Linked DNA regions of Homo sapiens: regions 2 and 3 are each linked to region 1. Evidence: fine-mapped expression QTL. A gene starts in region 1. Each other region holds a variant in brackets. All regions are shown on one strand. Distances are from middle to middle.

Evidence for each region. PIP is the estimated chance that this variant, and not a neighbour inherited with it, causes the effect.
Region 2: its variant is the best candidate, but not a certain one, in a credible set for the expression of STYK1 in nucleus accumbens (GTEx, PIP 0.62).
Region 3: its variant is the best candidate, but not a certain one, in a credible set for the expression of STYK1 in whole blood (INTERVAL, PIP 0.78).

The regions. Positions count from the first base shown.
Region 1 is chr12:10,668,103-10,678,791 of GRCh38, reverse strand. It overlaps STYK1 (serine/threonine/tyrosine kinase 1), which reads left to right and starts at 4,740. Exons shown (of 11, transcript NM_018423.3): 1 at 4,740-4,826.
Region 2 is chr12:10,614,628-10,625,316 of GRCh38, reverse strand. STYK1 (serine/threonine/tyrosine kinase 1) reads left to right here. Exons shown (of 11, transcript NM_018423.3): 8 at 458-666; 9 at 2,639-2,679; 10 at 3,345-3,441; 11 at 4,969-6,394. The coding sequence ends at 5,173. Among named protein-coding and RNA genes, the nearest start is that of MAGOHB, 6.4 kb to the right of the region's middle. The variant C/A (reference allele first, on the strand shown) is at 4,147.
Region 3 is chr12:10,629,113-10,639,801 of GRCh38, reverse strand. It overlaps STYK1 (serine/threonine/tyrosine kinase 1), which reads left to right. Exons shown (of 11, transcript NM_018423.3): 2 at 2,606-2,731; 3 at 5,116-5,235; 4 at 5,678-5,812; 5 at 8,494-8,757; 6 at 10,128-10,309. The coding sequence starts at 5,184. Among named protein-coding and RNA genes, the nearest start is that of MAGOHB, 21 kb to the right of the region's middle. The variant GAC/C (reference allele first, on the strand shown) is at 4,552.

The DNA of each region.
Region 1 (10,689 bases):
TAAGCTGCTTGTTGGCCGGTCCTCAGCACTGAAGAACTGTAGACAAAGCTGGATGTCTACCTGCTAGAGATGTTCCACAGTGTGCAATAGCTCTAGCAGGAGGGAGTTAGGGGGAGATGAGATTTTGCATTCAATGATGAGAGGATCATAGAGTATGAACCCTGACAAGAACCTGAGGCTAATGTAGTCTAACCTTTTCATTTTACAAGCGAGAAAACTGAGGCCCAGAAAGGTCAACTTGCTCAAGCTGATGCAAGCTCTGGAATCTAGCTGTAGGTCAGTGATCGCTAACAGTCATGCTAAACTGAATGATTCTTTGAGAATCCTGAGGAAAGAAGGAAAACGAGAAGAAAAAAATGAGTGGCCCCAAATGGTTGACATAATATCCTTAATTATCACATTTTTTTAATCCATAGGGAGAACGAATGTTCTTGAGGAGAATAAAAGTAGTTGGCAAGTGGTATATGTTTTTATGGTCAACAACATTTTTTAAAATTTATTTTTTATTTTATTTTATTTTATTTTATTTTATTTATTTATTGATCTTTTAGTATTTACAGGAAACAGAGACTACAAAGAGGTGTAAGACATGGACCTTACACCGCAAGCTCTTCCAAGCAATATGTGGTAGGCAGAATAATGGCCCCCAAATATGTCCACACCCTAATCCTCAGAACCTGTGATTATGAGGCAGGAGAACAGGGTCTGAAGGCAGGAAACCTAAGACCGATTGGCTCTGACTTCCTAGAACTGAATCAAAAGGAAAACCCCACCTCTCCACATCCAAGTAACAAAACGATCAGAGGCTACTTCCTTTGCAACTCCCCCCTCCACCCTTTTCTGCCGTTGCAGATGAAAAATGAAAGGACCTCCAATTGGTCTCCTCCTGCAACCAATCAGACTGGTTGCAGGCCAAGTCTTCATGTGTAAATTTGTAACTTCACTTCAGCCTCCAATTGGTCATTTTGCACCACCAGTCAGACTGGTTGCTGGCCACTACTTTATTTACATAGGGTTTAAACCAAGTAACAAACAGGAAACCTCTAGAGAGTATTTGAACCCCAGAAAATTCTGTAACCAGGCTCTTGAGCCACTTGCTCGAACCTGCTCAGTCTGTGGAGTGTACTTTTATTTTAATAAATCTGTGATTTTCTTTCATTGCTTGTTTGTGCCTTTTGTCCATCCAATTCTTGGTTCAAAACGCCAAGAACCTGGACACCCTCCACCGGTAACAATTATGCTACCTTTAATGGCGACAGTGACATTGTAGACGTGAATGGAGCTTCACAGAAGAAGATTATCCTGTGGGCCCAATCTACTCATCATGTGAGTCCTTAAAGGTGGAGAAACTTTCCGATCTGTGGTCAGAGAGAGCAGGACACACAGCAATGACAGAAGGGTCACAGAAACACACACCTGATGTGAGAGGACTCAACCAGCCACTGTTGGCTCTGAAGACGGGGGGATCAAAAAGGCTATCAACCAAAGAATATGGGAGACCTTTATAAGCTGGGAAAGGCAAGAAAACAAATTCTTCCCAGGAACCTCTAGAAAAGAATACAGGCCTGCTAATACCTTGATTTTAATCCACATAGAATTTTGTTGACTTCTGACTTACAGAACTGTAAAATAAAACATTTATGTTGTTTAGACCACTAAGTGTGTGGTAATGTGTTATGTTAGCAATGGAAAACTAATATATAAGGTAAAAAGAAACAACATATACATGGAAGCTTACCAATGATCAATATTCTCTAGGGTATACCAACCAGGGTTAAACATGAGGTCATATGAATAGTAATTTCCCATACTCTGTCGCCGCCTTTAGTTGGTTGCAGAACCTCTGTTGTTTCTTAAAAGATCTTTTCCCCAACTGTCCCTGAAGATCCTCAAGATAGTAGAGGACCTCATAAATTTTCACAATCCCAAACCCTAGCGGCTACATAGAATCCACTCTTTTCCTTGTCTTAGATTTCTTCTGGTGATGTCTATTGTTCTCTAAATGCCTGGGAACTCCATTTACATGCCAGGCATTGCTGCAGCAGTGACTCTACTGCTGACTTTGTTTATAATTTTCATCAGAGTGACTCTGATCCTCTGTGCCAGTGCAAGCCTTTCAGGTAAGCCTCAGGCCCATGTGGAGCTATCTCCTACTGGTAGCCACTGCTTGCCCTTTTGTGAAAGTTGAACTGCATTTCCAGATAAAGTTGGAAGAATTCACCTGCCCCGCTTTTGTGTTATATTCCCTTGAAAACAGTTCCAAAGCAAAGCTACCTTGTGTACACAAGGTCTCATACGGTTTTGTTGTTGCTGTTGTATTTTTCTGTGAAATAACTCTACCAGTTGTACTTGAGAGTCCCCTCTCACTAGGACTCTGTTATTGCATACGGGCTTGGCCAAAGGACATTGAGATGCAGACCCAGCGCTGAACCCCAAGCTATTCTTGTTAGTGGAAAATACCTTTGTGCTTTGATTTTCTTTTTTCTTATAATGAGTGACTTTCCAGGAATTCCTCCATGCCTTCCGTAAATAGATTCCACCCCACTAAACCAGTAGATTCCTTCCTCACAACTGCAGAATCATACAAGAGGGAATATACTAAGTAACACATGGATGGATGGCTTTAACAGTTTAGAGGAGCGCAGGATCTGGCAGTTAGGATTCATGTAGGCTAAACTGGAGAAGGAAGAGATCTCCAGTGTATATTTCAGTGTGACTTCCCACTACCGTTCAGTACTTAATCTGGACAGAGAGATAATGGGCATTCAACAAATTCCTATGGAATTAATAATGAGGCAGAAATAACGATCTGGTAGAAACACTGGGGCCAAAGCATTGTTGACAATGAGTTGGAGGCTTATAAATTTGAGATGGAGGTAATAATTGAAATTACAAGGGAATGAAAACTTGAAGAAAAAAGAGAAATAATGGATATTCTAACCATCTTATTAATGAGTATAATGTGTGGGACTAGCTATACATATATAACTCCTGGTGAATGTCTGCTGTGTAACTCAGACTATTTGGTACTTAGTTGTTTCTGTGTGTGGGCATTATCATTTCCAGTGTTTTCTCTAACTCAAAATGTTTTTAATGTATAATTTATGTGATTTGCTCAAAAAAATTGGAGAGAAAAATTTTGCCTCCCCTTTCTGGATTGTATTTTGGTTTCTTTTTTAACTTCTATTTCTATAATAGTAACTAGATTTTAGACAAAATTCTGTGCATCAGAATGAGTATCTAGCAATACATTGCAGAAATTTTAAAAATGAGTAAACCACTTTATCTGTCATGGAGGAGCATGCTTGGGGAGGTAGAGTAGAAAATTACATAATATGAAGTTCCAATCAGTTCATTTGGATTTGATGTATCACTTATGACATAAAGAATCTAAAGAACAACTAACTGATGAGATGTCTTCCTTTCCCCTTTTGAGGTAAAATTCACATAACATAAAATCAACCATTAGCCATTTAAAAATGAACAGTTCAGTGGCATTAAGTACAATTCATCCTGTTTTTAAAAAGCCCTGAAGGAAGTGAAAATGCCAATAGAGAAAGCTCTAGAGAACTGACATACCTCAATCTCTAAATATGCCACATTACATTGACTCAAGTTCTTTTTGCTCTAATGACTGTCAGTTTGTGTTTGGTATGCGTTCAATGCTGAATAAATTGGTCACATATTCAAGTTACCTATGACTCTTATTTCTTTAATTGAATTTGTATTAGGTGTTAATATCTAACAGAATTCCTTCAGCTATCTATTGTCTTAAGTATTTTCTATTATTTTAGTTTCCATGTGGACGGGTAACATAACTACCTTGTTCACTGTTTCCCCAGAGGAGAACCCAGGACATAATGGGATATATGTGTGTGTGTGTGTGTGTGTGTGTGTGTGCGCGCGCGCGCGCGCGCGGGCTCTAAATGAATGATCTATTACGTAATCTTGGGGTTTTAATTCTCATTAATTCCTTATAGGTTCCCCCACGTCTCCGCAGTGGTCAGTACTTTTTTTTTTCTTTTTTTTTTTTTTTTTTCTGAGACGGAGTCTTGCTCTGTCGCCCAAGCTGCAATGCAGTGGCACAATCTCGGCTCTATGCGATCTCTGCCTCCTGGGTTCAAGAGATTCTCCTGCTTCAGCCTCCTGAGTAGCTGGGATTATAGGCGCCCGCCATCACGCCTAATTTTTGTATTTTTAGTAGAGACGGGGTTTCGCCACGTTGGCCAGGCTGGTCTCGAACTGCTGACCTCAGGTGATCCACCCGCCTTGGCCTCTCAAAGTTCTGGGATTACAGGCGTAAGCCACCACTCCCGTCCCTTCAGTATTATCTTGTAACACCCCGGCAAAGCCTTCAGGTGGAGAATGTTCCTGGCGCGGAATAATCCACCTGAATGTGAATCCTGACCATTTTTAGGCGCCAATGGAGGCCGCTGCTACGGGGCCGGCCGTGAGGTGGCGCTGTTGCCCTGTATCGTGACTCCGTTTTCACCTGGACTGGAGTCACCGTGATACCTGACATCTAGCAATCACTAGAGTAGGAAATGAGTATAGATCAGCAACAAGTCCAGCCTTTACAGTTGCAGCAGAGGTTTCCTGTGGCTCGAGTGTGGCGAGTCCCGGAAACCTCGGAGCCCGCAGACTTCCCTTCGCGGGAGCCCGCCCGAACTCCATCCTTTGCCGGCAGCCACGCCCCGCAGTGGGAAGGAGGGACTGAAAAGCATTTCCTTGAGGCTGGCACACCTTGCCCTACCCAACCCTGTCATTATTTCCCCTCCGACTGGGCCGGTGCCATCGGAAACCGGAGTGACCAGAGGAGGGACACGGTAGTGAACGGGGTATGGGGGGCGGGCGCGGCGGGGAGGGTAAAGAAGGTGGGAAGGGAATGGCAGCGAGGCAGCTGGGGGAGGACTTTGCAGTTGGGGAGGGAGAAAAAGGGAAGAGGCTGGGAGCGGAACGGGTGTTTATGTGAACAAACAGAAATCACCAAGTGAATTAACCTGTGTTTCTTCGGAACCAGCATCTTGTGGGGTTTGGCTTCTGTGTTTCTATATGATAAGGGAGTAAACCTGACTCAGCAGATTTGGTGCAGAGAGAAACATGAGAAAACCCAGGAATGGGGGACCTCTGTTTATTCCTGGAGAGGGGGCCATCAGGAGAGGGGGAAGGGAAAGAATGAGGTTACAGGAATTACTTGTCAGAGGACTGCATAGCCTTTCAGACCATGGAATCGTTGCTTTCAGCTTCGGCTTCCTCATCTGCAAAGCATAAATACGGTAATTACTTTCCAGGGTTGTTGCGATATTTAAATGAGATATCAATAACCATGCTTTAAAAGTGTACAGCCTGATGTGCTATCCCTTGTTGACTGAATCTCTGTTTTCTTTCCTTCTTTTTATTTGGGGTGGGGAGTGGGGGAGGGAGTCTTGCTCTGTCACTCAGGCTGGAGTGCAATGGCGCGATCTCGGTTCACTGCAACCTCCGCCTCCCAGGTTCAAGCGATTCTCCTGCCTCAGCCTCCCAAGTAGCTGGGATTACAGGCTCCCACCACCACGGCCGGCTATTTATTTTTTTGTATTTTTAGTAGAGACGGGGTTTCACCATTTTAGCCTCTGTTTTCTTTTCAATGTCTTTTTTCCTCTTTCATTTTTCTCTATCAACCCTTCATCCCCCCTTTCTTTCTTTCATTTATGCGATTGTTGCTTCCTTCTGTAATGGGTCCTCTCCACATTGGAGTTTCTTATACCTATGAGACCACACTTCCTTCCCACTCGGTGGGAAGTAGTGGCAATAAAGGAGTCGAGTTACTGTAATGTGCAGCACAGCTCAACTGAAATACACCTGGAAACAGAACTCTGTGCTGTCTACCTGGTTTTTCCCCCTCAATGCACCGGAATCTCCACTGACAGCTAGCTAGGGGGCAGCTAGGTCTTTCAATGAGACATCATGAAGTATTTGCTTCAATGAAAATCATATACTTTTTCGTTCAGTGCCTCCATTACTGTGTGAGTTTGCTAGGGCTGCTGTAACAAGGTACCACAAACTGCATGGCTTTTGGCACCAGGCACCAGGGACTGATTTTGTGGAAGACAATTTTTTTCACAGATGCCGATGAGGTTGGCGGGAGATGGTTTCAGAATGAAACTGTTCCACCTTACGTCATCAGGCATTAGAGTCTCATAAGGAGTTCGCAACCTATATCCCTCACATGAGCAGTTCACAATAGGGTTCACGCTCCTATGACAATCTAATGCTAGTGGGCACGGTGGCTCACACCTGTAATCACACCACTTTAGGAGGAGTTGGTGGGTGGATCGCCCTGAGTTCAGGAGTTTGAGACCAGCCTGGGCAACTTGGCGAAACCCATCTCTACCAAAAATACAAGAGGAAGAAAAAGAAAGAAAATCTAATGTCGTGGCTTATCTGACAGGAGGAGGAGCTCAGGAGGCAATGACAGCGATGGGGAGTGGCTGTAAATGCAGATGAAGCTTTGCTGGCTCACCTGCCTCTGATTTCCTGCTGTGCACCCCGTACCTGTCGGCGCCCCGGGTGTTGGTGACCTCTGGCTTAAACAACGAAATGATTTTCTCACAGTTCAGTAGGCTGGCTATCCAAAACTAACATGTTATGAAGCCTGCATCTATTCCAGGCCTCTTTCTTTGGCTTGTAGATGGCTGTCTTGATGTTTATATGGTGTTCTCCCTGTATATATGTCTCTGAATTTCCCCTTTTTATAAGGACACTAGTCTTATTGGATTAGGGTCCATCCTAATTACCTCATTTTAATTGATTATCTCTGCACTATCATCTCCCAATAAAGTTACATTATGAGTTACTGGGGGTTAGAATGTCAGCATATTAATTTTGAGAGGGTGTACAGTTCAACCCTTTAACAACTAATGTCTTTAATTATGCACAAGTTAGTTGAGCATTGCATGTATTTCAGTTTTCTCTGGCAGAAACTATTTCCCACCTGTCCCAAACCCTCACAACCAGTCCCAACCAACATGTGCTCCGAAGATCTGCCAGGAGTTATGTGATTCTGCAGCTCTGTTTTCTTTTAACCTGAGTGTGTACATTTCCTGTTGCCACTGTAACAAATTACCACAATGGTGGTGGCTTTAAACAACATAAAGTTTTATCTTACAGTTCTGGGGGTCAGAAGTAAAAATGGATGGGCAGGTTTCCAAATGGATGGTTCTTTTTGGAGGCTCTAAGGGAGAATCAATTTCCTTGCCTCCTTCAGTCTCTAGAGGCTGCTACAGTCCTTGGCTCATGGACCCTTCCTCCATCTTCAAAGCCAGGAATGGCCGGTAAAGTGTTTCTCATGTCTTATGCTGACGCTCACTTTTGCCTTTCTCACACTTAAGGATTCTTGTAATTGCACTGGACTCACTGAGTATTCCAGGGTAATCTTTCTATTTTAAGGTCAGTTGATTCATTCCATCTGTAACCTTAATTCCCCTTCGCTATTTCAACGCTATTAAAAATCAACATGGCCAGGCGTGGTGGCTCACGCCTGTTAATCCCAGCACTTTGGGAGGCTGAGGTGGGCGGATCACGAGGTCAGGAGATCGAGACCATCCTGGCTAACAAAGTGAAACCCCATCTCTACTAAAAATACAAAAAATTAGCTGGGCGTGGTGGCGGGCGCCTGTAGTCCCAGCTAATCAGAGGCTGAGGCAGGAGAATGGCGTGAATCCAGGAGGCGGAGCTTGCAGTGAGCTGAGGTCGCGCCACTGCACTCCAGCCTGGGCGACAGAGCCAGACTGTCAAAAAAAAAAAAAAAAAAAAAATCAATATATTCATAGGTTCTGGAGATTAGGACATGGACATCTTTGGGAAGCCATTATTCTGCCTACTGTACCTGAGCTTTCCCAACTGGGTATTCTTTATTTTTATTATATGTATATTTAAAATTTATGTTTAATTAAAAAAATTAAAAATTATATATATATTTATCATATACATGTTGTTTTGAAATATGTATATATTGTGGAATAGTTAAATTAAGCTAATTAACATAGTATTATTTCACATATTTTTGTGATGAGAACACTTAACATCTACTGTCTTAGCAATTTTCAAGAATACAATACATAGTTATTAACTGTAGCCACCATGTTGTACAATAGATCTCTTGACCTTATTCCTCCTAACAAGGAGGAATAAGGTCATACCCTTTCATATCCTTTGACGTCTTTCTAACCCCTCGAATTCCCCCAACCTCTGGTAACCATCTTTCTATTCTCTACTTTTATGAGTTCAACTTTTTCAGATTCTACATATAAGTGAGTTCCTATGATATTTTTCTTTTCGTGCCTAGCTTATTTCACTTAACATAATATCTCCTGGGTTCATCCATGTTGTCAATTTCCATTTTTCAAAAGGCTGAATAATAGTTCATTGTGTTTATACTGTATGTATTTATACTTTATTCATTTATCCATTGATGGACATTTACATTGATTCCATCTCTTGGATATTGTGAACAATGCTGCAATAAACATGGCGTGCAGACAGCAGTATGTGAAATCAGACACACTGATTTCATTTTCTTGCTATCTATACACAGAAGGCAAAACATTGAGCCTTCAGAATAAAAGTAAGATAATATACTGAATAAAGAACATTATATACAAAAGTCAGATCACTATTGGATGTATACCGAATAGTGGGATTGCTGGATCATATAGTAGTTTACTTTTAATTTTTTGAGGAACTTTCATACTGTTTCCCTAACGGTTGTACTAATTTACATTCCCACCAACAGTGTGCAAGCATTCCCCTTTCTCTATATCCTCTCCAACACTTATTTTTCATCTTTTCGATAATAGCTATTCTAACAGGTATGAGGTAATAGCTCATTTTGGTTTTAACTTGCATTTTCCCTGATGATCAGTGATGTTGAATATTTTTTCACATATGTGTTGGTCATTTGTGTGTCTTCTTTTGAGAAATGTCTATTCAGGTCCTTTGTTCATTTTTAGTACAGTTATTTGTTTTCCCCCTATTGTTTTAGTTCCCTATGTATTTTGGATATTAATCACTTACCGGATATTAATCACTTCTCAGATATTTCTACCATTCCATGGGTTATCTCTTCACTCTGTTGATTTTTTCCTTGGTTGTGCAGAAATTTTTTAGTTTGATGTAACCCCATTTGTCTATTTTTGCTTTTGTTGCCTGTGCTTTTGGGTTTATGTCCAAAAAAACATTGCCTAGCCTAATATGATGGACCTTTTCTCTGTGTTCTCTTCTAGTACTTTCACAGTGTCAGATCTTACATTTAAGTCTTTAATCCATTTTGAGTTGATTTTTGTACATGGTGTTCTTTATTGAGTATATTATCTATTTTTATTCTGAAGGCTCAATGTTTTGCCTGCTGTGTATAGAAAGCAAAGAACTTTAAATCTTTTTTCTGAAGAAAAACAACCTGCTTAATGATGGAACAAAAAATGTGTCCCTATCGAACAGAAACCTGGGTACCATGTACTTGCTATATATACTGTTAAAAACTACTCCCCATTCCCCCTTGTACTTTTAGTATTATAGCTTAATCCTTTATGCCCCATTAGTTTCTATAGGTTATTTTTCTATAAAAATTTCTTGCAGATCCAATGCTATTTTCATAGATGAATTAGCTACTTATTTATTCAACAATCATATGAATTCTGATATATGCCAGACACTGCTCTTGGTGCTAGGGATACAGCAATGAACAAAATAGCTGGTCCCTAAACTTTTATTCCCATGAAGGTTTCATGCTTTTTCTTCTTCCTTTGCCAGTTCATTTTTGTCCTCCCCACCAGCCCAGGCTCAGCCAGTCTCTAGTTCTCCAACATGCTTTCTGAATTTAGATGTGGCTACTGTTCTGTGCCTACTTCTGGGCTGGGCTAATGAGGGACCTAAAGAAGCTGACTGTGCTCTCCAGGAAATTAAAGTCTTGTTGGGAAGAAACAGATAATAATAGGCAAACTGGTTAAGTACTGAATAAGTAGGTTGGGTATTAGATATCATGTCTTGGCATAGTGTCTAACTGGAGAAAGTGAAAGTAGAAGGGAACGAATGTGCACAAAGGTAAAGAAGCTAATTACGGCTGGGTGCAGTGGCTCACACCTGTAATCCCAACACTTTGGGAGGCTGAGGCGGGCGGATCACCTGAGGTCAGGAGTTCGAGAGCAGCTTTGCCAACATGGTGAAACCCCATCTCTAGTAAATATACAAAAAAAAAAAAAAAAAAAAAAAAAAAGCCAGGTGTGGTGACAGGTGCCTATAATCCCAGCTACTCGGGAGGCTGAGGCAGGAGATTAGCTTGAACCTGGGAGGCGGAGGTTGCAGTGAGCCAAGATCGTACCACTGCACTCCAGCCTAGGCAACAAGAGTGAAACTCTGTCTAAAAAAAAAAAGAAGAAGAAGTAGAAGAAAAAACAGCAGCAGCAGCAGCAGCAAATTACACAGACAGACAGTGTAGAGTGGACAGAGTCCTCTCTCAGTCCGGGGGACCTGAAATCCGTTTTAAGCTCTGGTTCTCTCTTTGTGAGCAAACAGCAAGGCACCTACCTCAGGGGTCCTTAGTTGTTTTATTATTATTTTTATTCCTTTTGAAAAATGGAGGGTAGAGTTTGACTGGGAAATTGCTGGAGATTCTTCCAGGTTAAAAAAAAAAGTATTTTATTGTTGAACTTC
Region 2 (10,689 bases), 53 kb after region 1:
GAACCCAGGAGGCGGAGCTTGCAGTGAGCTGAGATCCCGCCACTGCACTCCAGCCTGGGTGACAGAGCGAGACTGTCTCAAACAAACAAACAAACAAACAAACAAACAAAAAAAGAAAGAAACTTGGAATCTACTCCCTTTTCCAGTGTCTAGCTGGGTCCTTTCTCACGGGAAACGAAAATCAGGCAGGGGTCAGTGTTTGAAACAGAGGTGATTATATTTTCAAAATCCAGTATTAATGTCATTTGAATTATTTGCTCAATTTGGTAATCCTAAACACAATGCAGAAATGTGCAGTTCATTAGCATGCTTTGGAAGTGACATATCATTATTAGTGAGACTTGTTCAGAGTAGAAAATGTCCTTGTGTTTTTGAAGATTCCTAGGACTGCCTCTCCTTGTCTGTGACCCAAGCTGTGATCTCAGACAGCTGATCATATTTGATTTTATCTTGACAGGAATTCCTGCAGGAGAAGCATTTGTTCCATGGGGATGTGGCAGCCAGGAATATTCTGATGCAAAGTGATCTCACTGCTAAGCTCTGTGGATTAGGCCTGGCTTATGAAGTTTACACCCGAGGGGCCATCTCCTCTACTCAAACCATACCTCTCAAGTGGCTTGCCCCAGAACGGCTTCTCCTGAGACCTGCTAGCATCAGAGCAGATGTGTACGGTTTATTCCTGGACTCTGAGTTTACTTTCTTCATGACTTGGGTGTTGTCCCTGAATATGATTTGATCTGTTGCCAATTCTGTATACGAATATAATCTCTACTTAGAAATCAGACATACTCTCAAGCAGAAATGTTATGTGACAGAGTTCATGTTTGTCATCTGTCTGCAATCCTTTTTGGTACTTTTTCAACTTTTTCTTTTCTTTTCTTCTTTTCTTTTCTAAGACAGGATCTCACTGTGTTGCCCAGGCTGAAGTGAAGTGGCATGATCACAGCTCACTGCAGCCTCCACCACCCAGGCTCAAGCGATCCTCCCACCTCAGCCTCCCTAGAAGCTAGGACTACAGGCATGCACCACCCTGCTTGGCTATTTTTTTTTTCTTTTTTTTTTAGAGACAAGGTTCACCATGTTGCCTAGGCTGGTCTAGAAGTTCTGGGCTCAAGTGATCCTCTCACCTTCGCCTCCCAAAGTGCTGGGATTACAGGCATGAGCAACCATGCCCAGCCTCAAGTATTTCTTCTGTATTAGATTAGCAGCCTTAATTAGAAAAAAAAAAAGTGAAAAGATTATTCACATCAATATCTGAGGACTTAATCTAGTAAAGTCTGTTTTATCTGAAGGAATAACCAAAAGGCCAGTTAACCCATACATTGTTAAAATAAAAAGAAATATACATACCTTCAATAACTTATTTTAACATAAAACTTATAAATGTACATTATCTGTTTTTTTCAAGGAGGGGCAAGGCTTCTTTTTATAAGGATGAGTTTCCCAAATGAAGTTACACGTTGTTCTTTTAGTGTAAATAGTATCTTTTAGTGTAAATAAAAATGATTTATTTTTGAGTTCCAGTTCAGAATGATTTTAGGTAGCATGAGAAACCTGAAAATAATTGTGAAATTGTTTGACTGCAGACTTTTGATGTTACTTTTCCCAATTTTCTAAGTTGTCTCCCTCACACAATTTGACAAGACTTTCTTTTTCAGCAGTTTATTTTTATAAATCATTTTCAAAACATTCAACTTAGTTTTCAAAACATTCAACTTCCTTCAAACTTTGTTTGAAGGAAGATAACACTTTTTTGCATTTAATCCATATATAAAATACCTAATTGATTATATAACTACATATAATTGCAATTACATGTAAAATTGGCATTAACAGGATCATAAAGAATCACAATTGACTTTTGGTAGCCATATAACTCAATTGCTTGGAGAAGTGCATTGATGTAATGTAGAATATCCTGCTAGCCATGAATGCCATGAGCAGCAGAGGAAATTTAGAATATCAGTTAATATGATGAGTCAGTTATGAGATTTCCATTGTTGCTTCACTGACATCTGCTTTTCAATAGACATCTGGGGGTAATAAACTTAACTGTAAAATATTAATCATTCAATAATGATATTACAGAATAGTGAACTATACACCTCTCAAGTCATATTGCTTAGGCAAATACCTATTTCAACTATATATAAAGCTTGCCCTGTTAATATTTTTCCTAGGTTTGGGCAATTAAATCTACTGAGAAAATAGTGACTAAATGATAAAACTTGGTTGAATTTGTGCTAAGAATAAAGGCAAGAATTTCAGCAGAGAGGGATGGAAAGGAAGAAAGAGACACAGAGGGAATATTTTTAGGTAAATGTGCTTTTGTGATTGAGGTAAATGTGTTTGTGTGGTTACATGCACACACATTTGCAAATAATAACAAACATCTATTAATTTAAAACACAGGAGAGTAAATAGAGATATAATTTCAATCTTAAAAGAGATTCGAACCTATGGAAATTGAGCAGAAATGCTTTCTAATGGCTGTTATTTTGTTTTTCAGACACTCATCCTTGATTCTCCTTCATTGCCTTTTTCATGGGGCTCTTATTAAAGGCTTCTGACACTTAAATGAGCTCTCTTTAGAAAAACAGAAATAGAAATTAAATAGATGGCTTTGTTTCTTTTACAGCTGGTCTTTTGGGATCCTGCTCTATGAGATGGTGACTCTAGGTAAGGATGAGCCCCAAAATAGTGTGTACCTGTATGCAAATATGCAAGCGTGTTTATTTAAGGGGTGGATGATGTATGCTTTCTGAAAGGGTTTCAGTACAGTGCTGAAGCTTGAAATGGACTGACATGTTATCTAAGCCTGATTCCCGTGATAGTCATATAAAGTGATTATTTTCTCCTTGCCCCAGTCCCTTCTTCCCTGTCCTTTTTTACCTTTCTTTTGCTCTCTTCCTCTTTATTTTCCCCAAAATATTACCAAATCCAAGGGATGTTTTCAAATCCCAAGGATAATTCCCAGAGTGGTCTTGCATAAACATAAAAATGTTTACTCCAGACTTATTAATTCATTTGACTGAGAAACTGCACACTTTCCCATGTATGGAGAGTGGAGGACAGGTCTTATGTCTTACTTTGTCTTATTTGATCACTTTCTTAGAGATTCAAGATTCTCCTAACTTATCAGGTTTTTTTCTCCAAAACACCTTTCCCCCCAATTCACTAAATTATATCCATATTTGATCACCAGGGAGCAACTGAATTGTATGTAGTATTTTTCCTATGGCTATATCTTTTGCAAGCAACCAACCCAAGTGGATGAAGAATAGTGTTAGTTACAGTTCATATTTTAGAGGACCTTAAAGTTCTCATTATTTTCGTAATGACAGGAGCACCACCGTATCCTGAAGTCCCTCCTACCAGCATCCTAGAGCATCTCCAAAGAAGGAAAATCATGAAGAGACCCAGTAGCTGCACACATACCATGTAAGTGGTTTTTAAAGGCCTGCTCCTCTTTCATTCCAAATGTTGTTTAGCCCTCTATCAATCGTGCCCTTTTCAAAGGGCTCAGATGATCCTCACCTGTGTATATGTACCCATGTACAGCTTTTAACCAAACCCATGCAGTAAAATATACCTATCTCATATATTATATATGCATATATATTATATATACATATACATACACACACTCACACATACTCACACACATACACACACATACCCCCACCACACGCTGAGAACTATATCAGGAATCTAATTTTATTATAGTTTAGTTCCATGGGAAGCTTCTAAAATAGGTAACAAGTAAACTAAACCCAATGCAAGTATAGTTGTGTTTAGTCTAAATGTCAGTCTTCTGCCAGCCACAGTTCAGACAGCTGTCATAAAAGCCATTGCACTAGAGTTACTCATTCAGAGTATACCAGTTCTTATTTAGTATTTAACTTTTAAATGACTGTCTCCCTGTTTTTCCAACTCTCAGTGTGATAGAAGCCAACCAGAGGAAGGGGAGATAAGAAGAAATTAGAAAGGCAGAAGGAGGATCCAATATTGTCAGCAGATTGGGACAGTTAGTGAACCAACCTAGAGGCAGGAAATGGAAAAATAAAAAATTACATAGACTGTTATTACCAATGAAGTTCAAAAAGGAACTGCTGTAGAATGTAAGAAAAGGTTAAATTGTGTATA[C/A]GGAGGCAGCAGAGAATATATTAATGTTTTTATTAGAATTGTTGCTATTTTGTAAGTTTTTTATCATTGAATGGGTAAATTTACAGCACTTGGTTTTCCTTATGATAAATAATTACTGCATCAAGCAGATTAAATTTAAGTATCTTAATTATATATGAGTATACACATACACACACACGCACAGAATATAGTGATGGAGCTAGGTACAATAGAAAAAAATTGATGACAAACATTTCTATGTGTTAAAGGCTGGTCTTAATACTGGGAAAGACACCTAACTGACAAAATACCTGACCTGGTACCACAACCTCTGGTACTTGTAACACAGCCTTGTCATCTGCAATTCTAGCAGCAGCTTCTAGGCACAAGTATTAAAGAACATAACATTTTGATGAGGAGATATCTGAAACATGAAAATCAACCTAAAGTATGCAGCAGTATACATGATTAAAAGCTCCGTCTCATATCAGAGTAAAAATGACATGTGTTCATTTCTACCCAGCCCTGTTACTTTACTGCACAATGCTTACAACGTTACAGCAAACAATATGTAGTGATAAAACTGTCCTGTCATACCCTAGTTTGGAAAATGTTAAGTCATTCCTATTATACAAGAGCACTTGTTGAGAAAGTGCTATTAAGAGACTTGATATAAAAAGATTGAGAAGGAATATCACTCTCTGGGAAGAATATGAGTAACAGGGCAAACAGAAGACAATTAAAGAATTGCAGAGTTGTTTGTTAAAGTTTGTGAGGAGAGGAGACATGCTCCCCATACATTTGCCTTGTCAAGGAAGTCAGTTTCTCTTGTTTCCCTCTCAGGTACAGTATCATGAAGTCCTGCTGGCGCTGGCGTGAGGCTGACCGCCCCTCACCTAGAGAGCTGCGCTTGCGCCTAGAAGCTGCCATTAAAACTGCAGATGACGAGGCTGTGTTACAAGTACCAGAGTTGGTGGTACCTGAACTGTATGCAGCTGTGGCCGGCATCAGAGTGGAGAGCCTCTTCTACAACTATAGCATGCTTTGAAGAGTCTCGGGCAAGAAACATTCATGCATGAGTATATGTTCTTGGAATCAATTCCTCTAAGAACAGAGAATGGTCTTTCCCAGGGACACAAAGGGAGAAATGGGACATGGATTCTTGATCTTCCTTTACACATTTCTCGGGAAATCTGAAATGATGCTGGATGGGACTCTACACATCCTGAGCTAAGACATACTGTCAGTCTCACTTCTGCTGTCCCAGTCCTAGAAATCCTGGGTAGAAGTGGTGGACCTGTGCAAAGGAGGTTTTAGAACTCTGCAGTATTTGTTGGGGCATGGCACAAATAAGCTCATCCCTCCCGTCCGAGGCTAGTTTCCTCTGGAACCACATTTTTATCTAGATGAAAATTTGGAATGAAATGAAGGAATAGAAATCCAATAAAAGAGTTGAAGGGAAAGAAAATTTAAGGTTCTTCTTGCTCAGGATTACAGATATGGACCAACACCTCCTTCAAGAAAAGGTGGTAGGACACAAAGTTCTTCAGTCCTGAGCCCTACATGTGGGGTTGGAGGAGAACTATAACGGAAAAACCTCTGAGTTTCACCTTAGGTATAGATAAAAGAAAGATGGTCCCCTTTTATCTGATTCTGAGACAGGTAAATTCTGTTTGTTACTACGTTTAATTAGAAGGTGGAGGAGTCATTTCATGATTAAGAACATTCAACATGTATTGTTCATTAAGCTAGCTTCCTAGTTCCGATTAGACTAAGGAGACTAAGCCTAGAGAGTCAATGTTAGAACAGTGAAAAGAATTCTGTGTGTGTGTGTGTGTGTGTGCACAATAAATAGGAAATGTAGAAACCAAGCAAGAAGGCTTAGTAGCTCAGTCTTTAACAAGGGCTAGAAAAGAATGTAATCTGATATGGAAGGATAGCAGCTTCTAATTTTCAATCATCTGTTGATATACTGTGAAACTTATTTTATTAAATTAATATTTATTAAATGGAAATATGCTTTTCTGGTTTATAACTACTAAAAATATCATAGGGAGGATAAAAGTAAATAAGTGAAAGTTAATGCCAATAGAAAAATTCAAGAGATAATGTACAATGTCAGAAAAGGGATTCTTTATGTGTAAATGGGGATAATACCTATTTCACAAGGTTGTTCTGAGGATTGATACGTTTTGAGTATGTATTTGTACACTATCTGGCACATATGCGCTCAATAAACGTGTTTCTCCTTTTCTTTTGCCCTTCCTAACCCAGGACCTTTCATATATTTTTCATTTAAAATCTACTGTGACCAAGAAGAGAAACTCAGTCGCTAACACTGCAAGGCAGGACATGCCTAAAGATGATGATATGGCACAAGTAGTGATATTATACATGTGCAATGATGAAGTCATCATTTTTGTACGCTTTTGGATGATGATAGTGGACTCCTACTATTACAAAATATTGAAAACATCATCATGAGGGCAATTCTGTTGAACATGGTAGTCTGCAATTTTAAAAAACACTTTGGGTACCCTGGAAGGGACATCTAAGGCTGCCATAAGAAAAATGACTGGCAGCTAAAAATGTTGTAGAAGTTGGAATCCTGATGGAATCATAATGAGTCAGCTAAAGGAATAATGATTCTTGCCGCTGTAAGAATACCACAATGACTAGTCAGGATTTAAATGGGTAGCAAGTTGCAGTAGGGAGAAGGGCAGAAGAGTGGCTTCACACAAAATTACAAAGTCCTATGGAATCCCATTGTTGCCTCTCAGCTGTTCAGTTAAGTCAAAATTACAAATATTTACTTATTTATCTGATCACTGAAAAATATTGAGTGTTAAGGCTTGCTGTGCCAGACACTTGGCTAGGTGTAGGATAAAAGAAATAGGGAGCTTTTGATTACAGTCTAGAAGGTGAGACACATTATACATTTATTTGTGTGGGTATCTGTTAAGTGCGAAGTGTTAAGTGCTATAAAGAAAAAGCATAGGGTAGTAGAAGGGAGTTTAAAAGGAACACTTCCCTGAACAGAAATGGGCTATAAACTGAGACCTTAGGGATGGGTAAGTAACCCAGGCCGAATAAGAAGAGTCTCCCAGGAGGAGGACATGTGTGCGTGAAAATTCTGAGGCAAGGAACTGCAAGAAAGCATATGGGTTGCAGCACGGTGAGCTAAGGGAAAGTGGAACACAGTGAAATGGAAGGTTGCTTTGTTGTACTGTCATATTTCTTTTAGTAGGAGGGAAAGAAGCAGACAATTGATATTTAAGTTTTTTACCCCCAATTTTATTTGTTTTTCCGGCCCGGAAAACTGGATACAGTAATTTTTACTCTAAGAAAACTGGGTCTTTCTCTCACTTGGCCAGGCTTCTTCCAGAAGGAGGATGATATTTCTGGCATCATTGACCTTTCAGCCAAACTAGGTGTTTCCAAGCTAATGAATGAAAAAAAGAATCAAAATATTTATCATTTAATCGGGTTGACTCTAGATAGATTTTGTTGTATTGTTTTGATTGCCTTCTCTTCCAGTCTTGTTTTTCCAATCTATGCTTTATTGTTAAAAAAAAATTCCAACACTTAGGAACAACGCAAACACCCACCTAGATACAGTGTCTAAGGGAAACTTGGTAACGTCGTTTAAAATAGAATAGTCTGAACCAGTAGTTCTTAAATTATGCTTATGGAGCACACTATGTTTTTTTATGCCAGATTTAGGTATTCTGTTATTAAAATCAAATAATAGTAGTGGGTTTTTTTTTAGCATTTTAAAACAAAAAAAGTCAGTTAATTAAGATTTCTTAATCTTAACTCTGTTGCAATAATTTTTTTAAATTTTGCTTTAACACTCTTACTGAAATAAATAAGTAGCAAATACAGTGGAAGACTGGAAGATATCCTATTACCCTTAATTTAGCATACTGTGTTTACCCGTTTTGGGGAAAAGAGTTAGAGATTATGCTATGTGTTTGAAGCATATAATATTGTCATTTGCTGGAAAAAAATTTTAGATTGAACAATCGAATTAAATATATCATGTCATGGTAATCTAGAAGTAGCTCCAAGTTCTCGCCATATATGAACATATGTGATAACGAATGGTGTGGAAAGTTTGGTGTTTCTGCATGATCATGATTCTCTTACTTAAAAAGTTAATACCACTAAGTGGTAAAAAGACAGATAAGGCTAACGTCCACAGGGAAGTCTATTATGGAAAAGAGAAGAGCAAGGTGGGTGGATGAATTAAAAATTAAAATACTACCTCATTCTGAGTATTTTTTAAAATTTAAACCACATTATGCACTTATTCTTGACTTACTACTCTGATCCATTTATTAATAACTGAATGAGATAGCCCTGACATCTTTTCTTCTGTAAATACAAAATCAAATGAATCAGACGTTATTCATAAATTAAAAACATGAGACTATAATACCTAGTGCTTATCACAATAAACATGGAACATGTTTCTGAAAATTGGAAGTCAGAATGATTTGATCATTAAGCCCTAATTTCAGATGGAAATAAAACGTTTATTTCTTACCTACTTCACTTTGTGCTTTGAAATTTACCGCTGTGTTAGCAAAGGTGGAAACAGTATTTTGGCTTCACTTAAGCAGCTCAAATATTTATTTTCATAAGTAAACTGTGTTGATATCAGTAAGTACGTCCTAATTTGGAGCCTACAACAAGCAATTTGAAAATGTTCACAATTTTTTTTTTGCTATTTCTAGCCCAACTAAAAGTGTATGAAAAGATTCTAACTGTGCTGACCAACACAGTAGCTTCTAGCCACATGTGTTTATTTAAATGTTAATCTAAATTAATCACAATTAAGAATTCAGTTCGAAGTCACAGTAGTCACATTTCAAGGGCTCAGCAGCCATACAGAAGAACATTTCCACATCACTGTTGTGTACCATCCAAGAATACAACACAACGCAAATGCTTTATCACTTTGTAATTCTTGCTTCAATACAAAAGGTTCAAATTTTGGCTTAAAATATAGAGAGTTAAGTAAATATAGTTTCATATTTTATCTTACAAACAGGTAGGATTATAGTCTTGAACCCCTATGTCATTTTTGGAGATCAAGACAGTAACTGGCCCACTTAACAAAGATGTTAATACTTTGTGCATTCTGTAACCTCTATTTATATAGTTACACATTCTGGTATCCATAGTTCTATTTAGGTAAACATGAAGATGAACATTGGCACATGTGCCAAAAACCTGAAGGAGAGACATTAGGGAATCTAAGATATTGAATGAGGCTTTCCATATAATTCAACAAAATGGATTACAGCTGATATTTCCAGAGATACTACGGAATAGAGTGTTCAAATTTCTGTGAATTATTCTTGTGGTAAGTGTGGTGACCAACCCATCTCAGTTTGCCTGGGTGTTTCCAGGTATGGAAAGTCCCATTTCCCAGGAAACTCCACAGTCCTGGTCAAACTGGAACGGCTAGTCACCCTAGTGGTAAAACATGGTGCTTCCTGTTTCTTACGTACTTTCCAAAATGGTGGCCCATTGTAGGGACTGATTCATTTTTCTATATTAATAGTTATATAACTACTAATATGGACTCAAGGAAACGTGGCCCAATTTGCCTTTTTAGTCATTCTACTTGAACCTTATGCTCTAGCTATACCGAATTTCTTAGTGTTCCCCAAACATGAATTTTCACACCACTGTCTTTGCTCGGGTCATTTTCTGCCTGGAATGCTTTTTCATCCCACTGAACATACACAGAACTTACTTCTCAAGGTCCAATTCAAACACTTCCGTTGACAAGCCTTTTCCAATACTCTTTTTTCAAATTTCCCTACTCTGCAATAGAATGCTCTTGCTTCCTCTGCTGTACTACCGGCATGTTTTACACACTTTTTTTTTTTTAGACGAAGTTTCGCTCTTGTCACCCAGGCTGGAGTGCAACTGCGCGATCTCCGCCTCTCGGGTTCAAGCGATTCTCCTGCCTCAGCCTCCTGAGTAGCTAGGATTACAGGCACGTGCCACCAAACCTGGCTAATTTTTGTATTTTTAGTAAAGACAAGGTTTTGCCATGTTGGCCAGGCTGGTCTTGAACTCCTGACCTCGGGTGATTTGCCCCCTTTGGCCTCCCAAAGTGCTGGGATTACAGGCATGAGCCACTGCGCCCGGCCACATATAGGCTTTCTTTTCTTTTTCTTTTTTTTTTTTTTTTTTTTTTGAGACAGAGTTTCGCTCTTGTTGCCCAGGCTGGAATGCAGTGGCACGATCTCAGCTCACTGAAACCTCTGCCTCCAGGGTTCAAGCAATTCTCCTGCCTCAGCCTCCCGCGTATCTGGTATTACAGGCACGCGCCACCACGCCCAGCTAATTTTTTTGTATTTTTAATAGAGACGGGGTTTCACCATGCTGGCCAGGATGGCACATATATTCTTAATTATAGCAATTGCTCCCTTGTGCTGGTATTCGCCTTACGTGTTTGCTTTCTTTTCTAGACTACCAGATCAAATGGCTTATTTCTAGTTTCAAACTGTCACATAGGAAATGTTTGTTAAAACTAATGTTTTA
Region 3 (10,689 bases), 39 kb after region 1:
AAGTAGTATAAAGAACATTGGGTTTGTAAGTAAAAGACCTGGGTGTGCAACCTTGCTCTGCCATTTTTTTTTAAAAAGTGGCTAATTTGGTGGGGTACAGTGGCTCACGCCTGTAATCCCAGTACTTTGGGAGGCCAAGTCAGGTGGATAACCTGAGGTCAGGAGTTCGAGACCAGCCTGGCCAACATGATAAAACCCATCTCTACTAAAAATACAAAAATTAGCTGGGTGTGGTGGCATGCACCTGTAATCCCAGCTATTTGGGAGGCTGAGGCAGGAGAATTGCTGGAACCTGGGAGACGGAGGTTGCAGTGAGCTGAGATCACGCCATTGCACTCCAGCCTGGGCCCACAACAGCGAGACTCCATCAGAAAAAAAAAAAAAGTGGCCAATTTATAACTTAATCACTAATTCATAACTTAATCCCTCAGTTTCTGCCTTGCCTTCTTTGTATGAAAGTGCCTAGCACAATACCTGGCACACTGTAGTTGCTAAACACAGGTTTATTAGATCTGAAAACCGGAAGCTTGTTTCATAGGATGTTGGTAACAAGTAATTCTCAGATTCTCTAGATCTGAGCATTGTTCTCTATCTCACTTCCAAATTAATATATTCAGCCCATTAAACATGTTTTTTGTTTGTTTTGGTTTTGTTTTTTGTTTTTGTTTTTTTTCCAGATAGCTCAAGGGTAAGAATGAAACGCTAACTATACAAGAAGGCAGACTGTTTCAGGCTAGGGGCTGCTACCTCCATATATTTTACCCTCCTCACTTTTAGTCTTTGAGTCCTCTGCCCCATAGCCCAAAGCCATTAATAACTTCCTTGATCCATGTGGCAGCCACCTGGGAGGGTGGATCACTTGTCTATCTAAAAAGAACATGGCTGGAAGATCCACATGTGTTGATAAGCAAGCAGTAAGGTTGAAGGTGAGGCTGGCACAACAGATTTAACTGTACCTTACTGGAACAGGGCCAGATGTTATACTGAGTTCAATCATGGAATTTTTCATCACACATAAGCAGGCAGAGTGCAGGAAATCTGATTTTAGAAGTCTTATATCTAGGTATATTTTGGTAAGAAAAGTTTACTCTGGAAAGTCATGGGTAAATTGCAGATTGTGTCCGGGAGACTGTATTGTGCTAACTGAAAAGAAATGCCACTTATTAAGAGTTGTGTTATGGTTGCAAATAGAATATAGTGTGAATTAAAATAGATGCCTAAATGCAGTGTGACACTATGCTTGTATTGTATGTGTAAAAGTTTAGAATTAATATTACTATTTAGTTCAATTTCGTTATAGTTATATTCATGAGCTTTTATGGTCTTCAGACTATAGTCTTGTAAAGATTTAGCATGGACTTTACTCCTCATTTCACTTTCATTCTCCTCCCTTTTGTATCTCCTTCATTGCACTGTTTCTTCTCAGGATTCTCAATGAAAGAGGGGAGTTAAACCTTTAACATGCTAAGAGAAAGTCTGAAGCAACTGATAAGAGAAATTAAGGAATGATAACTACAAGTGAGGCAATATTATGGTTCTAACTAGAACCCTGCCTGAAGAGATTTGGCTCTGTAGATATAGGATTATGTAAACTAGAGGCAAAGTATATACAAACATATTTTACAACTATCAAACATATTTATCAGAATGAAATATATTACAATTTCACTAGACCCTTGATTCCAATGCCATGGATTTCATTATTCATAACATTAAATAGAGAACTGTGGATAATGCTTTACAGTTCAGCTAAGAGAAGAAGCAGTAGCCTACATATATTTTTTGACATAGTGGGAAAAGTATTTAGAGATAATGAAAGGGAGTGGAGTATTGGTCAGATTGAACAGGAATCTTGGCCAGAAGTGTCCTTCTAGTAGTCAGGTGGGCCAGAGTTGAACCCATCGAAGAGTCATCCTAGAGGTTTTTGGCATTAAGGCATGCCTTTTCTCAGCTTGACAGAGTGGACAGGCAAAGCCATGTGGTTTCTGAGTATGAATTTCAAGCTAAAAAGTGATCTAGAGAGGAATATTGCTGTTACAAGTAAATATAAGCATCCTCTGATGTATGAGCTTTGGTGGCCTCTGTGTGGTGAGGTTTCCCACATTAGCTTTCATGGATATGTGGGTATGCCCAGTGTGTATGCCTTAAAAATCCTAGACTCGGCCAGGCGCAGTGGCTCATGCCTGTAATCCCAGCACTTTGGGAGGCCAAGGCAGGTGGATCACGAGGTCAGGAGATCGAGACCATCCTGGCTAACACAGTGAAACCCCCTCTCTACTAAAAATACAGAAAATTAGCCGGGCGTGCGTGGTGGTGGGTGCCTGTAGTCCCAGCTACTTGGGAGGCTGAGGCAGGAGAATGGCATGAACCTGGGAGGTGGAGCTTGCAGTGAGCAGAGATCACGCCACTGCACTCCAGCCTGGGCGACAGAGTGAGACCCCGTCTCAAAAAAAAAAAAAAAAAAATCCTAGACTCATCTGGTACACTCCATATGCCTCTACCTAAATAAACTGTAACCATTAGAAAGGGTTTATTGTATACACATATGGAAAGCAATTTCATTGGGTGGACCTCATCATTCTATACATTTATCTCCTTGCTCTAGCATCCAATTTCACTGGGCTGCAAGATATCAATAAGCCTTGCCTCTTTAAACTACTTATGTACAAATAAAAGTGATGGTGAGAACCTGGCTCAGGAAATGCAGTAGCAGGCCATATTGCATCCAAAGGTGAGTGCTCTGTAATAGGTGTGATAGTTAGTGTAAGGATATAAGCATGAGTTTGAGTTATCAGGGATTTGTGTGTTTGGCCAGGTGCCTATAGTTGAGTATGGATGGCCCTCCGTGAGCAGTTCACTGTGCCCATGTGGGGGTACACGTACACATGGCTTTAAACGACTCCCTTCAGTATGTATTAGTGGGTGTGTAGTTTGTTTTCTGGGCCGAGCTCATGAGTCTGAGCTAGCTGCTGACTGACCCTTTTTTCCACCTGTGCTGTGGTAAGAGAGAGTGTGCTGAGAACCTCCTCCTCAGAAAGCCAAACTGGTTAAACTGGCTGCTCCCTGAATGAAAACAATTACTTCTGATAATCCACTAAAAAGGAGGCAAAGGAAAGGAAAATAAGAATGATAATAGCAGTGATCACTTTTCTAATAGCCTTCCTGAATTCACCGTGCTGATCCAACGTTTTATTTTTCAGAACTTCTCCTTTGTGCCACTCTCTTAAGGTCTGTTTTTTGAAAGTTTCATCACTAGTGCTAGTCCTTCCATGTGGCCTCATGAATTGTGGAAGCTTTCTCAGCCACATTTCTCCTTGCCATTTTGGTTTACACACTGGATACAGTGGACTTTGCTATCTAACTATTCATCAACTTCTTAGATCCCATTCTAAGAATAAGAATAAGGATAAGAAGTTCCCTCTTCTGTGCCAATTTTCCGCCCGCTGGCTACTTGGCTGTTTACCTGAGCTTCTGTCAACCAACTGCACAGTTTTGTTTCTCTTGAGTCGTAAGGGAATTGTTTAACTATTAAACCCATATACAAGTTCATGGTGCTCCAGGAAGAGTGGAACACAAGTAAGGCAGAATCTGGGAGGCTTCTTTACATAGGTCTTTCAGGCACTGAGAGATTCTGCCTCAGTAAGTAACACTGTGGTTATTAGTATCAGTATTAAAAACAATGCATAATGTAATGATAGAGGACAGCATAATATGGCTAATGTAACACCTGTACAACATAGTAGCATATTATATAAGCTATACTTCTGATTTTTGTTTTATGTTTTTATCAAGTCACTACAAAACTGGATCACATATTTAGACTTATTTAGCAGAAAATCATATTTTCTTTCAAGTTAATCAGAATTAAAGAAGTAGGCTTTGTTGACTATAGAACCATGGGAGTGTCTTGTCAAGCAAAGGCAAAATATAAATTTAGGAGAGGTATGGGACAGTGGTAAACATGAGTTCTCTTTGGAAAGAAAGAACCAAGTTTCTAGGGCTGTTATTTGAAATATGTACTGATTATATTATATAGACTTAACAGTGATACACATAAAGAATCCCTTGCCAGACAAACAAGAAACTAATAACTAGAGTCTACTTGGAGGAGACTGGAGGAGAGTTAAGAACTGGATAAATGGAGAAGAATGGGGGGGAGAAATATTTTTATGCTATACAATTTTACACTACTATTTTTTGAATCATATGAATGTATTTTCTTTTTATTTAAAAGAGAAAGAGAAGGTGGCTTGGTACTGATACTTCCTTTATATCCTTGTAGCAATGAGTGTCCGTGTCTATATCTGATATGAGCAGAGGAAGCACCTTGAAGCTCTGAGGGATGAGGAATTAAATAGTTTTTATTGATAAATGCTGTCTGTTCACTGCTTGTGAGGGTGTGGATATTTCAGAGAAACAAAGCAAATGTGTAACTCATATCCTTCGACATCTGTCAATTTTTTATTTGTTATCTGAATTAACTGTGTGTAAAAATGAAATTAAATGTTTTCTTTAGAGCTAGAAATGGTAGCTCATGCCTGTAATTCCAGA[GAC/C]TCAGGGGATTGAGGCAGGAGGATTAATTGAGCCCAAGAGTTTGAGATTTAAATGAGCCATGCATGATCACACCACTGCACTCAAGCCTGGCTACAGAGCAAGATCCCAACTTCAAAAAATGTTTTGCTTAAAAAATATGATGCACAGCTAAAAAAAATATATTAGACATGCTTAATACTGTAGGGGAGGTAGATCATGCCCACATAACCCATGGATCACAGTTCAGATGGATGTTTTGAATCTGTACTTGATCATGGGAGCAGAAGTCTCGGGTGGGAGGGGAGACTTTAAAATAATTTCAGTAACAGTTGAATGAAAGGACAAGAGCAGATCAGAGCTCTTTGCTGTATAATAGAGAAAAGAGAAACGCTGAGAGGAAGAGAAGGTTGGGAGGGTTCTTCCAACCTGAATATCAGCTAGGTAGATAGAGATAAACGGATGACTCAGAGAGGTAGCCATTTACTTAACTAGTGATCTGTAGAGGCGGTTTAAAATTCTGTGTGTACTTCATTTATTTTTTTTCATTCATTTTATTTTTTTCAAAAACCACTCAATCCTTAGGAATTACTCACAGCTGTGCTGTGTGCATTCTCTGTGGGCCTAGCAGGGAAGGGGACAGCCCTGTGGCAATGGGCATGACACGGATGCTCCTGGAATGCAGTCTCAGTGACAAGTTGTGTGGTAAGTACGGATTCCACAGATGTCTATCCTCTGATTTTAGAATTATGAAGGCTAAGGTCTCGGTAGATTCTAGAAGGAGGATGATTTGATTTCCAGTAGAAATGAAGACAGTGGTGATAAAAGGATGGGGACTAGAGGCCATTGTCTTTTTGGGGAGAGGGTAAGTGCTAATCAGTGATCCAGATGCTGCATCTTCAATCTTGGTAAGAAACTGCCAGAAGCAACGTCATGCACATTTGATGGGCTAAGAAACAGAGTCACTGGGGTTTCTGGTTAGAGAGTTGCTCCCAGCAGTGTTTCTGTTGAATGGAAGTAGAGGAGATGGTAGAAGAGATGACCTTTTCATGTATGATGAGCTGAGAGCTGGCGGGTAGGGGAAATTGCATGAACACCAGGTTAGGCTTCTTCATTCTCTTCTCTTCCTGTGTGATCGCCTACCCAGTCATCCAGGAGAAGCAGTATGAAGTGATTATCGTCCCAACTTTGTTGGTTACTATCTTCCTCATCCTTCTTGGGGTCATCCTGTGGCTTTTTATCAGAGAACAAAGAACTCAACAGCAGCGTTCTGGACCTCAAGGTAAAGCTCAAACTTTGGGGCTGGGCAGGGGCTTAAAGAAGATGGAGATTAGGAAAAAGTATGGTCTAAGTTTCAATGAGCCCATGTCTAGAAGTCTAGGTACCTGCAATGAGAGAGGCATGGGTTCCCTCCCATGGAGTTGAGAGGGGGATGATCTCTTTTCTAGGAATTCCCGAGTTGGAATTCAACACGTGCTTACTGACTGAAAAAAGAGTGTGCAAGAAAAACCTCATATAACCTGTTTCTATTCCTGTTGGACTATCAAAACTTTGACTATATGAGTGCCTAAGGACCTAGGAGAAAGACCTAAGGGGGTAAAGTCCAAGGCTTTATGAACATCCTAGGAGGATGACATATCACCCTATGATACGTTCCATTCCTAATCTTTGCCTCCAGGATATATGATGGAAAGGAGGGGCCTTTATATTATAACAGTCTTTGAAGTGCTAAGTAGATGATAACAGTCTGTTCTGGAGTTCCACTGAGCATATAATAAAAGGGAATCAATTCACAGATGAAACTCAGGGTAAAAAGAAGGAAAAAGAAAACTCTCATAATGATATGAAACTCTATAGTGGCTAATCCTTAGTTTTTCTTTAAATTTTATCCCAATAGTCTTATACTTCACTTTTATAGAAAACTTCTCAAACAAGTTGTCTAAACTCACTCCTACTACTTCTACTCATCACATTCTCTTTTGAACACACTAAAATAAGGTTTTCATCTCTACCACTTCGCCAAAACAAGTCTTTCCAAGGTCATCAATGACAGCTGCATTGAAAAGTCCAATGATCAATTCTTAGTCTTCGTCTTACTTGATCTGTCAAAAGCATTTGAAACAATTTTAAACTTTCTCTTTCTTGAAATACTGAAAAAACTAAAGCCACTTCCTAAATGCTATAATTTTTAGTCTTATGGATTCAAATACATTTTCTATTCCAATGATAGTCCCTTGAACTCAATTCTCATATTAAACCACCTACTGCACAGTTTCAATGGAATACAAATCTCATATGTAATATGACCAAAACAAAGGTCCTGAAATTCTCTCATAAATGTCCTCCGCAAATAGTCTTGCCTATCTTAGTAAATGGCAAGTCCTGTCTTCTGTGTTTTCAGTCTCAAACCTTGAAGATATCAGTCTCAAACCTTGAAACACAGTTTGAGACTGTGTTTTCAGTCTCAAACCTTGAAGATAACTCCTTTCTTTCTCTCACAGTCTGTATCTAATCCATAAGCAAACACTGTTACCCTATTTTCAAAATAAACCCAAGTTACTCTCACATCTCACTGATCACTGCAACACACTCTTAACATTCCCTGCTTCTGCCCCTACTCCTTTATAGAAATGCCAGAATGAGTCTTTTAATACAGTCAGTCCTGTTAGTTATCTGCTTGAAATCTCTCTTCCACACACACACATGCAGTAGCCTCCCACCTTGCTCAGAATGAAAAATGACAAAATTTTTTCCATGGCCTTATGTGATCTGGGCCTCCCTGGCCTTGTCTCCTACTACTCTCCAATGATCCCACTTGGCTCCAGCTACACTGGCTTCCTGGCTATTTCTCAACTATTGCAGCTATGCTCCCTGCTTAATGCTTTTGCAATTTTTGCTTTCTTTGCCTACAATACTCTCCCTGACACCAGCATGGTTTGCTCCCTAGTTGCTTCCAGGCCTTTCTCAAATGTTATCTCATCAGAAAGGCCTTTCTTGACCTTCATATATAACACAGGTGACTGATTCACTGATGCTTCTTCTCCCCACCACCTTTTTTTGTTTTTTTTTTAAAGAGATGGAGTCTCGCTATGTTGCTTAGGCTGAATGTTAATTCAGCCCAGGATCTCCTGGGCTCAGGAGATCCTCCTGCTTTGGCCTCCCCAATAGCTGGGATTATAGGCTCATGGCATCACACTCAGCTTTTTCTCCATCTTTTATTTTCCTCCACAACATTAATTGCTTGATATATTATTACCTGCTTCCTCTCCCCTACCAGTAGAAAGTAATCTTCAGGTGAATCTGGACTTTTCCTGTTCCCAGCACTTAGAACAGTACCTGGCATGTAATAGGTGATATTTGTTGAATAAATGAATAAATGTAGATTTAATAAGAAGGATGAACCTCTCTTTTTTGCTGGCCAAGGGAAGGAGAGAGTACCAGAAGACTTTTTTGACCAAGACTCAAGGAAATATGAAATAACTTGACTTTTGGGGTAACTCAAAGGAGGAAGAATAACCATAGCTTAAAGCTGATTAATTATCCATACCTTTCCTCCAACGTTGAAAGCCATTTGTCTGATTTAAATGACAGTTCTCACTGGCAGTTACCTCCACCTTTAGGCATCTGTGGTTTGGATACCTATTCAGTAACTTCCCTAATTGTCTCCATACCACACTCATGGGAAGTACTCAATTGTAACCCAGAGGAAGGAAGGCAGAAAGGAAGTGTCATGACCGATTTCCTGGGGTCCTTCTTGAGTTGTCCTAAGAACTAATGGGGATTATTATAAAGGTTCTACAAACTTGACATTGATGCTGGTTTATAGAGAAGCATCAGAAGACAACTCCCCATTGGCCAAAGAGAAAACTGCTGAAGGAACCTCCTTGCCAATTTGTTTCAGGGTCTGCTTTCCGGGATCCCCAGGGCGGGGAAAAACTGGTTGACATCATCTCTCTGTTCTAGGCATTGCCCCTGTTCCTCCACCTAGGGACCTAAGCTGGGAAGCAGGACATGGAGGAAATGTGGCTTTGCCACTTAAGGAGACATCCGTGGAAAACTTTCTGGGAGCTACCACACCTGCCCTGGCTAAGCTGCAGGTGCCGCGGGAGCAACTCTCTGAAGTTCTGGAGCAGATTTGCAGTGGTAGCTGTGGGCCCATCTTTCGAGCCAATATGAACACTGGGGACCCTTCTAAGCCCAAGAGTGTTATTCTCAAGGCTTTAAAAGGTAAAACAAGAAGTGTTTGACTCCCCCTTCCCCTAACAGTAAATATTAACAGGCTTTGCGAACATTGAGATGTTAACTAACAGATAGTTGTGATCATAACTGTGTACAGAAGAAGGTAATAGAGTGGAAACTTGAGGCAGAAATGTTTTTCTTGGTGTCTTTTTTTTTAATTACACAAATTGTTTATTTGTGAATCCTTACCCAATCTCCAAATAATAACTAAAATGACTACTACAAATAAGCATAATGTTATGATGAGTAAGATGTTAGCTGTGGGTTTTTACACAGTCTTTATTGTGTTGAGGTACATTCCTTCTGTACTTTGTGTAGTGTTTTTATCATGAAAGGATATTGGATTTTATCAAATGCCTTTTCTGCATTGATTGAAATGATCATATGATGTTTATCCTTTATTCTGTTAATGCGGTATGTCACAGAATTGATTTGCATATGTTAAAACATCTTTGCATCCTAGATTCCCTAGCTCTTCTTTGCATCCTAGGTTCCCTAGCTCATCTTTGCCTATTGAGGCTGTTAAAACAGATTTTTTCACAATGGATGTTACTTGTACTAGGATTCTGAGGTTGTTTCCTCATTTTACTTTATTCTTTGATACCCCTTCCTGATATTATATTTCTTTTTTCTTTTTTTTTTTTTTTGAGACAGAGTGTTGCTCTTGTCACCAGGCTAGAGTGCAATGGTGCCATCTGGGCTCCCTGCAACCTCCGCCTCCCAGGTTTAAGTGATTCTCCTGCCTCAGCCTCCCAAGTAGCTGGGATTACAGCCGTGTGCCACTATGGCCAGCTAATTTTTGTATTATTAGTAGAAATGGGGTTTCACCATATTGGCCAGGCCAGTCTCGAACTCCTGACCTCAGGTGATCCACCAGCCTCAACCTCCCAAAGTGCTGGGATTACAGGTGTGAGCCATCATGCCCAGCTTACATTATATTTCTCTCTCTCTCTCTCTCTCTCTCTCTCTCTCTCTCTCTCTCTCTCTCTCTCTCTCTCTCCTCTTCATGATATGGGCCAGTAATGGTGGATACATAGAACAAGGATAAGACAAGCAAGGATATTAATCCAAAGGACTAGACAGTGATAACTTTTTAATGCAAACAGACTATCTCTCTATTTAGGCAGATGAAAGCCTATCCAGTTCTAATAATTATGATTCTGTGTTACCTTTGATAAAAGATCAGTGACATTAAGCATCATCTTCATCTAATTAGTCCCCTTTGTGTTTATTTTTGCCTTCATTCACTCCCATGTGGGGCCTTGAGAATTAACATCTTAAGTTGCCTCCTGCTCCCTGCCTCCCACTCATCGAGGATGCTCTGACTGCTCACTGCCTGGATCTTTCGTCCTCTACAGAACCAGCTGGGCTCCATGAGGTACAAGATTTCTTAGGGCGAATCCAATTCCATCAATACCTGGGGAAACACAAAAACCTGGTGCAGCTGGAAGGCTGCTGCACTGAAAAGCTGCCACTCTATATGGTGTTGGAGGATGTGGCCCAGGGGGACCTGCTCAGCTTTCTCTGGACCTGTCGGCGGGTGAGCAGTAGGGCAGAGGTATTAGGAGGTTAAGGCTTGACCTTGTTGACTAGCTTTTTACATGTCAGTTAGTGTGACAAATGACAAAATGCAGAGACACTATAATAGCATGACAGAATAAGGGAGTATGACCATATAATAGAACTTTTTGTAATTATAGAAATATTCTATAACTGCTCCATCCAGTATGATAAGCCACTAATCACAGATGGCTTCTAGACACTTGAAGTGTGGCTGATGTGATGGAGAAACTAAATTTTAAATTTTATTTAATTTTAAGTAATATAAGTTTAAATAGCCACAGGTGGCTAATGAGCAGAGAGTGGACAGTACAAGTTTAGAGCATGGACTTTAGGCTTCACCTCCTACTAGTTATGTGA